Homo sapiens: one gene and its partner. The protein of the gene in region 1 interacts with the protein of each later gene in a pairwise test. Each region holds a gene or a part of one and is shown on either strand. Other genes may lie near its edges.

Evidence for each region. Proteins that work in one complex are often made in the same cells at the same time.
Region 2: the proteins of DNAAF6 (region 1) and YAF2 interact in binary tests that used the Homo sapiens proteins (3 or more experiments, as listed by UniProt).

Annotation. Positions count from the first base shown.
Region 1 is NC_000023.11:107,213,111-107,216,610, reverse strand, and holds part of DNAAF6 (dynein axonemal assembly factor 6), read right to left. Parts: intron 1-3,500. UniProt on the Homo sapiens protein: Plays a role in cytoplasmic pre-assembly of axonemal dynein.
Region 2 is NC_000012.12:42,228,249-42,231,748, reverse strand, and holds part of YAF2 (YY1-associated factor 2), read left to right. Parts: exon of another isoform or gene 1-527; intron 528-3,500. UniProt on the Homo sapiens protein: Binds to MYC and inhibits MYC-mediated transactivation. Also binds to MYCN and enhances MYCN-dependent transcriptional activation. Increases calpain 2-mediated proteolysis of YY1 in vitro.

The sequences.
Region 1 (3,500 bases):
GTGATACTTTAAATTTGATAGGATTTCCATAAAAAAACTCATGGAGCTTTCCACTTTAATTACCCATCATTGTTATAAAACAGAAAGACAGATGTCAAGTACTATTTCGAATATGCTTTCCTTGTTCTTTCAAAAAGTGTTTGGTTTAATAGACTCAAGAGCAGAATTGATCTTTAGTCAGGCTAAAACCCTAGTTCCAGCTCAGTGAATCATGTATCCCTGGGGATAGAGGAACGAGCCACATTCATCTCTATGAAGGTTAGAACCAAGTATTAGTATAAAGGCATTGACACTTTTGGGGTTTAGCAGTGTCTGGTTGTAGTCAGATGGAGGACAGAGTATGTGAAAGTTTTATAGAAATAAAAACTAACACTAAGCAGAAGCTAAGTATTCAGACTTCAGATTAATCATTCAAAAGCCCTGATAACTGCTTTTACTTTTTTCCACTATAGGTATGAAACACTTCCCTGTCCCACCGCCTCATGACACTGAACTAGTGGATTTAAACAGCAACCACAAATTAATAGTCTCTAATACATGCTGATGTACTTCAGTCTTCATAACTTCATAAGTTTATTTTTCCATCTTCTGCACAAGCATACACATCCCCAAAGGACTTGCCCTGACTCACCAATACAAGCAATCTTCATTTTTTTCAACTAAGTATAACACATAGCGACACCACCTCATTGGCCCGTCTCAGGGATTCTTTGATATTTCAAGAAAATCCCAATTTCTTACCAATTGTTTTTTGCTGATGACAGACCCTGCAGCTCCAACTCACTCCACTGCTGGCAGTCAAAAAATTCTTATCTCCTTGCCTACTGGCCAACTAGCACCTCTATCTCTCTTTTCTCAGGCCCCTGTCCTCATCTCCTAAGACTTTAGACATGTACAAAAGTTAGAATGTCTTGTTTGGGCAAGGAGAGTAGTGTCTGTTCTTGAAAGCTGATGGAACAGCTCACGTGGGTCTTTATTATGTGAAACTATTCCAAGAGTTATAAATCAGAAATTAATCTATAATCTCTCAACAGTGTCTGAGACAGTAACTATTCCTTTCCAAAAGGTGTTTCAAAAGTGCTATGTCTGCGGTTAAGGCATTACAGGCATTTTTATGTGAAAATCCCAAGATAATATTTGGGACATTTTTTTCCCTCTTTTTTAATCACTAATGTCATGTAAATGTGTAGTACTTTTCTTAAATTATTAATCATCAGAACACTAATAGTCAGAGTAAAGCATTTCTCAGAACATGAGGGCCTCTTGTTTAGTTGAGTGCTGCCTTCCACAGAAAATTAAAAGCAGTAGAAGTAAAACCTTGGACATTCTTGACAAAAATTGGTATACTTTCCATGGACAGTGATTGGCTCAGAACACATGGGAGTTTCAATTTATTAATTTAATGAAAATAAATGATTAAAAATAAAATTTTCAAGTTAAAAGATGGAATGGGATCATAAAAACATTAAAAACCATCTGGCAATTGTTTTCTATTAGAACATCATTTGAGCCTTTACCATGAATCTACAGCCAATTATCTGAGCAATTTATCACTGCAATTCATGCCACTTTGTAATATGTAAGACAGAACATCCTCGTTATAATGTCTGTGAAGAGCAGTGAACCTTATTTCCCACAGGCCTTAAGATCCCCTCATGGCTTTGAAAAATGACAGACACACTCTCTCCTCAATCTCCCAGATTCTTAACAAGTCATATAGAAAAGGGATAGTGTAAATGAAGCAATGTGTATGCAACTGTTCTCTTGCTGTTTTCAGAGAGCATATTTTCAAAAACACATCACTCTTGTAATCATCCCACAGTTCCCAAGATTAATACATGTTAAAAAATGAAAAGCAGTTTCTCTCCTGGAAAATGTAATAGTTCATTAGAAACATTAATTATTCTCCCACTGTTCTGATACTGTATGTCCTCTAATGATATCTGTACTGTGGTGTCTGAATGACCAATTATCTCAAAATTGTTTATAACCCAGATATACAGAATCATACATTATTATAGTAATTTTCCTTTATAAACTGTACAACTCAGTAATATTATGTTAGTCTATTCTCATAAGCACTCATCTTTTCTCCTAGAAACACCTCTAGATGCAAATAAACACCTCCAGCCATAAACACCAAATGGAATAGGCTCTGTAACCAGGGTAAATCCTTATATTTGAATCTGTCCCAGTTACAAGTTCCACTTCACTATATTCAAGGTCACTGTTTCTCAAATACTTGATATACTTTTTCTATATGGCATAACCTTACCTTTCCTAGGATGTAGGCTCCAGAAAATTATTATTCTGCTACTCAACTAAGGTAGCAAAAATGAGCTTGCCTTCCCAACTTCATTGATACATTGTTCCTAACTTTTTCTCCTGTATCCTGTTTGTTGTGTATAGCTAATGCTGTCATTAACATCCTGATGTTTCTTTGTTTAGCCTCTACTAAGACTTTTCCCTGACTAAAACTTCCTGGTTCCTGATCCTGGCTCCAAGCTGACTCAGTTCTTCTACAAATGTTATTCCCATTTCACATCTTATTTATTCTGCCCTATTCCACCTAAGCTCTTCCTTAGGGTGGTAGCTCAGTTCAGTGTCAATCTGAGCCACTGAATTTGCTGCCTGTTCATAGCTTGCTTTTTTCTCCACATTGTGGCAAAAATAAATTTTGGGAGGAGTAAATTGATATGTACGTTTGTGAAAGATGATTTATTCATGATAAATTGGTCATATAACAAAACACTTCATTAAAATAATTTTATGCAAATTGACAGATTCTGTTATGATATGGGATTTTTTGCCCCAAATTTTGTTTGCCCTATCATAGGCAGTCTGATAGCCAAGGCTCACCGATAGTTAAGAAATAGGAGAATGGAGAGCAGGGAGTTATATAAAAGTGTTTTAATTGTTCTGGGAATACTGGCAGTAACCTTGGAGTGGTCAAAGGTCAGTTCAATGAACTCTTCTACCCAAAATGAAGCCCATCTTGCTACTGCAAGCCTTGCTGGCATTACCTATCTTGACCCCAAATGCTACTCAACTAATTAGACTCCACAACTTTATTTGTGCATTACTGGGAAGCCAATTTTGGTAGGCTGAAACTAGTTTGCCCTATTATTTGGCTCAAAAACTTTCTGTTCTGCGTTAATGTGTAGACAAATTAAAAAATTAAGGGACTGGTACTTGGTGGTCCAATTAATACTGTATAACTGAAAATATTTGTTTTATAGAAATATTGCCTAGGCTTAAACAATCCTAGCTACCACTCTGCAATGGTTGTCAAGCATTCTTTGGCTATAAATATAAATGACAACATTTTGAGATGTGGCTATTGCTACCACAGTTACAGAACTATTTTCCTATTCAGTGTTCAGGTGGTTTAGAAAAATATAATTATCTTTGCTAGAAATGTACTACAGGTTACATTGTCATGCATAATCAGCCTTGTAGCTTCCTGTGAATGTATCAAATGACACAGCTCTGTTCCCACA
Region 2 (3,500 bases), on another chromosome or scaffold:
GAAGATTAGTGGTGGTATCAATGAATATAATTTCTGATATTTCACCATGAAATGTGTCAGCATTTGGAAGCTACGCATAACTCAGCAAACAAATGGTTCCTAGTTACCGATGTATGATTTTACAAAACTGTAATGGGTAATCCATCAAAGTACAAAATACCAACAGATTTTAAGGGAACACTGAAAACTTCATTGATGTGGTTTCAGATTTCATATTGCAACTAACCTTTGAGAAACAACTGTGTTTTTATGTAGTATCAAAGAATAACACCTATAGTTATCTGAAAATGCTATTCAACTACTTACCTCTTTTCAACTGTATATCTGTGAGAGTCCAGATTTTCTTAATATTTTTGGACCAAAACAACATATTGCAACAAATTGAATGCTGAGATAGATGTGACAATCCAGGTGTCTTCTACTAACCAGATGTTAGAGGTTTGCAAAAATATACGATGCCACTCTTCATACAAAATATCTTTGTTTTGGAAAATAATAAGTTTTTAAAATAAAAATATGTCATTTAATATGTGATGTATTTATTTTTTAAATGAACTAATATATTTAGATTTTTATCAGTTTTTATTTCTAATATAGTAAACATTGATAGATGACCCACATTAAGAAAAACAAAAAACAAAAACTCTTAAATTTTAAGAGTGTAAATGATCCTAAGACCAAAAAGTTTGTGAACTGCTGGTCTAGAGTTTATTGGCTTGGGTTTCTACATGCAATGGCTTTACTTCAGCAGGTATTCTTTTTATTTCCTTTATAGTGTGAGGCCTGATAACTAATATCCTAGTTGTTTAACTCAGTGGCCCAATCTCACTCATCTGTTGATGTCGCCTCCAAAGTATTTGATGTTCTTGGCCCTTTTTAAATTGAAACTCTACTTCCTTCATGTCTCTAAGACTCCTTTTTCATAGATTTCTGTGTATATCTCTGAAACCCATTTCTGCCTCCCCAAACTTGGCATCTGTATATTCTTTACTTTGTATGTGGCATAAACTCCTTTCTGGAACCTCAGCTAGAAACTGTCATTGTCTCAGCTTTGATTCTAATTTGTAGTCCTCCTTCATGTCCTTTCTCTGGATTGTCTCTTAAATCTATCCTTTTTCCTTTTATGTAGTTACAGTTCAGAAGCCCATATCACTTCTGTCATGAACTATTGGACAAATTGGTCTCTCCTTTGGAATGCTACTAACATGATCTTCATTATCTTTTTTGAAACCTATGTGATTATGTTGGTCCCTGTATATTTAAAAAAAAAATTGAGTCCTATTAGTGGCTGCTGAATAAAGGCTGAGATCCTTAGGATAGTGTTCAAGGCCATAATAATAATCTATCCCTAAACTACCTTCCTAGCTTCATTTCCTGCTGCTTATCCCAATCCTGTGCTGTGTCAGCACTGAATTATTTTTATCATATGGTACTTTTTCTTTCTCTTTCTTTCTTTCTTCTCTTTCTTCTCTTTCTTCTCTTTCTTTTCTTTCTTGAAGGAGTCTTGCTCTGTCGCCAGGCTGGAGTGCAGTAGCGCGATCTTGGCTCACTGCAATCTCCGCCTCCCAGATTTGAGCGATTCTCCTGCCTCAGCCTCCTGAGTAGCTGGGATTACAGACGTGTGCCACCATACCTAGCTAATTTTTTTATTTTTAGTAGAGACAGGGTTTCACCATGTTGGCCAGGATGGTCTCCATCTCCTGACCTCGTGATCCGCCTGCCTCAGCCTCCCAAAATGCTGTGATTGCAGGCGTAAGCCACCATATGGTACTTTTCAAAGAAGCCCTCTAGGATTACCATCCCTCCACCCCTTGGTATCATATTGATTCTATGTATGTAGAGTCAGTCATGCACTCCATAATGACATTTTTGGTGAGTGGGGGACCACATATACAGTCCCATAAAATGATACTATATTTTTACTCTACTTTTTCTATGTTTAGATACAAATACTTACCATGGTGTTACAATTACCTGCAACATTCAGTATAGTAACATCCTGTACACCTGTAGCTTCAGAGCAATAGGCTCTACCATATAGCCTAGGTATGTAGTAGGCTGTACCATCTAGGTTTGTATAAATACATTCTATGATGTTCTGACAATGAAATCACCTAACGATGCATTTTTCAGAACATATCCGTCATTAAATGATGCATGGCTGTATGTATATGTAATTATTCCTGGAGAATAAATATATTGTAGTATAATTGTCTAGACACTTATCTGCCCTACAGGGCAGAGACCGTCTTATTCACTTTGGTATTCCCAGAAGCTAATAAAATACCTGAAGTATTGTAGATATTTAAATGTTTTTTTTTTTTTTTAATTTATTTTTTTATTGATAATTCTTGGGTGTTTCTCACAGAGGGGGATTTGGCAGGGTCATGGGACAATAGTGGAGGGAAGGTCAGCAGATAAACAAGTGAACAAAGGTCTCTGGTTTTCCTAGGCAGAGGACCCTGCGGCCTTCCGCAGTGTTTGTGTCCCTGATTACTTGAGATTAGGGATTGGTGATGACTCTTAACGAGCATGCTGCCTTCAAGCATCTGTTTAACAAAGCACATCTTGCACCGCCCTTAATCCATTTAACCCTGAGTGGACACAGCACATGTTTCAGAGAGCACAGGGTTGGGGGTAAGGTCACAGATCAACAGGATCCCAAGGCAGAGGAATTTTTCTTAGTGCAGAACAAAATGAAAAGTCTCCCATGTCTACTTCTTTCTACACAGACACGGCAACCATCCGATTTCTCAATCTTTTCCCCACCTTTCCCGCCTTTCTATTCCACAAAGCCGCCATTGTCATCATGGCCCGTTCTCAATGAGCTGTTGGGCACACCTCCCAGACGGGGTGGTGGCCGGGCAGAGGGGCTCCTCACTTCCCAGTAGGGGTGGCCGGGCAGAGGCGCCCCTCACCTCCCGGACGGGGCGGCTGGCCGGGCGGGGGGCTGACCCCCCAACCTCCCTCCCGGACGGGGCGGCTGGCCGGGCAGAGGGGCTCCTCACTTCCCAGTAGGGGCGGCCGGGCAGAGGCGCCCCTCACCTCCCGGACGGGGCGGCTGGCCGGGCAGGGGGGCTGACCCCCCCCCCACCTCCCTCCCGGACGGGGCGGCTGGCCGGGCGGGGGGCTGACACCCCCACCTCCCTCCCTGACGGGGCGGCTGGCCGGGCAGAGGGGCTCCTCACTTCCCAGTAGGGGCGGCCGGGCAGAGGCACCCCTCACCTCCCGGACGGGGCGGCTGGCCAGGCGGGGGGGCTGACCCCCCCCCCCCACCTCCCTCCCGGACGGGGCGGCTGGCCAGGCGGGGGGCTGACCCCCCCACCTCCCTCCCGGACGGGGCGGCTGGCCGGGCAGAGAGGCTCCTCACTTCCCAGTAGGGGCGGCCGGGCAGAGGCGCCCCTCACCTCCCGGATGGGGTGGCTGGCCGGGCAGGGGGGCTGACCCCCCCCCACCTCCCTCCCGGACGGGGCGGCTGGCGCGGGCGGGGGGCCGACACC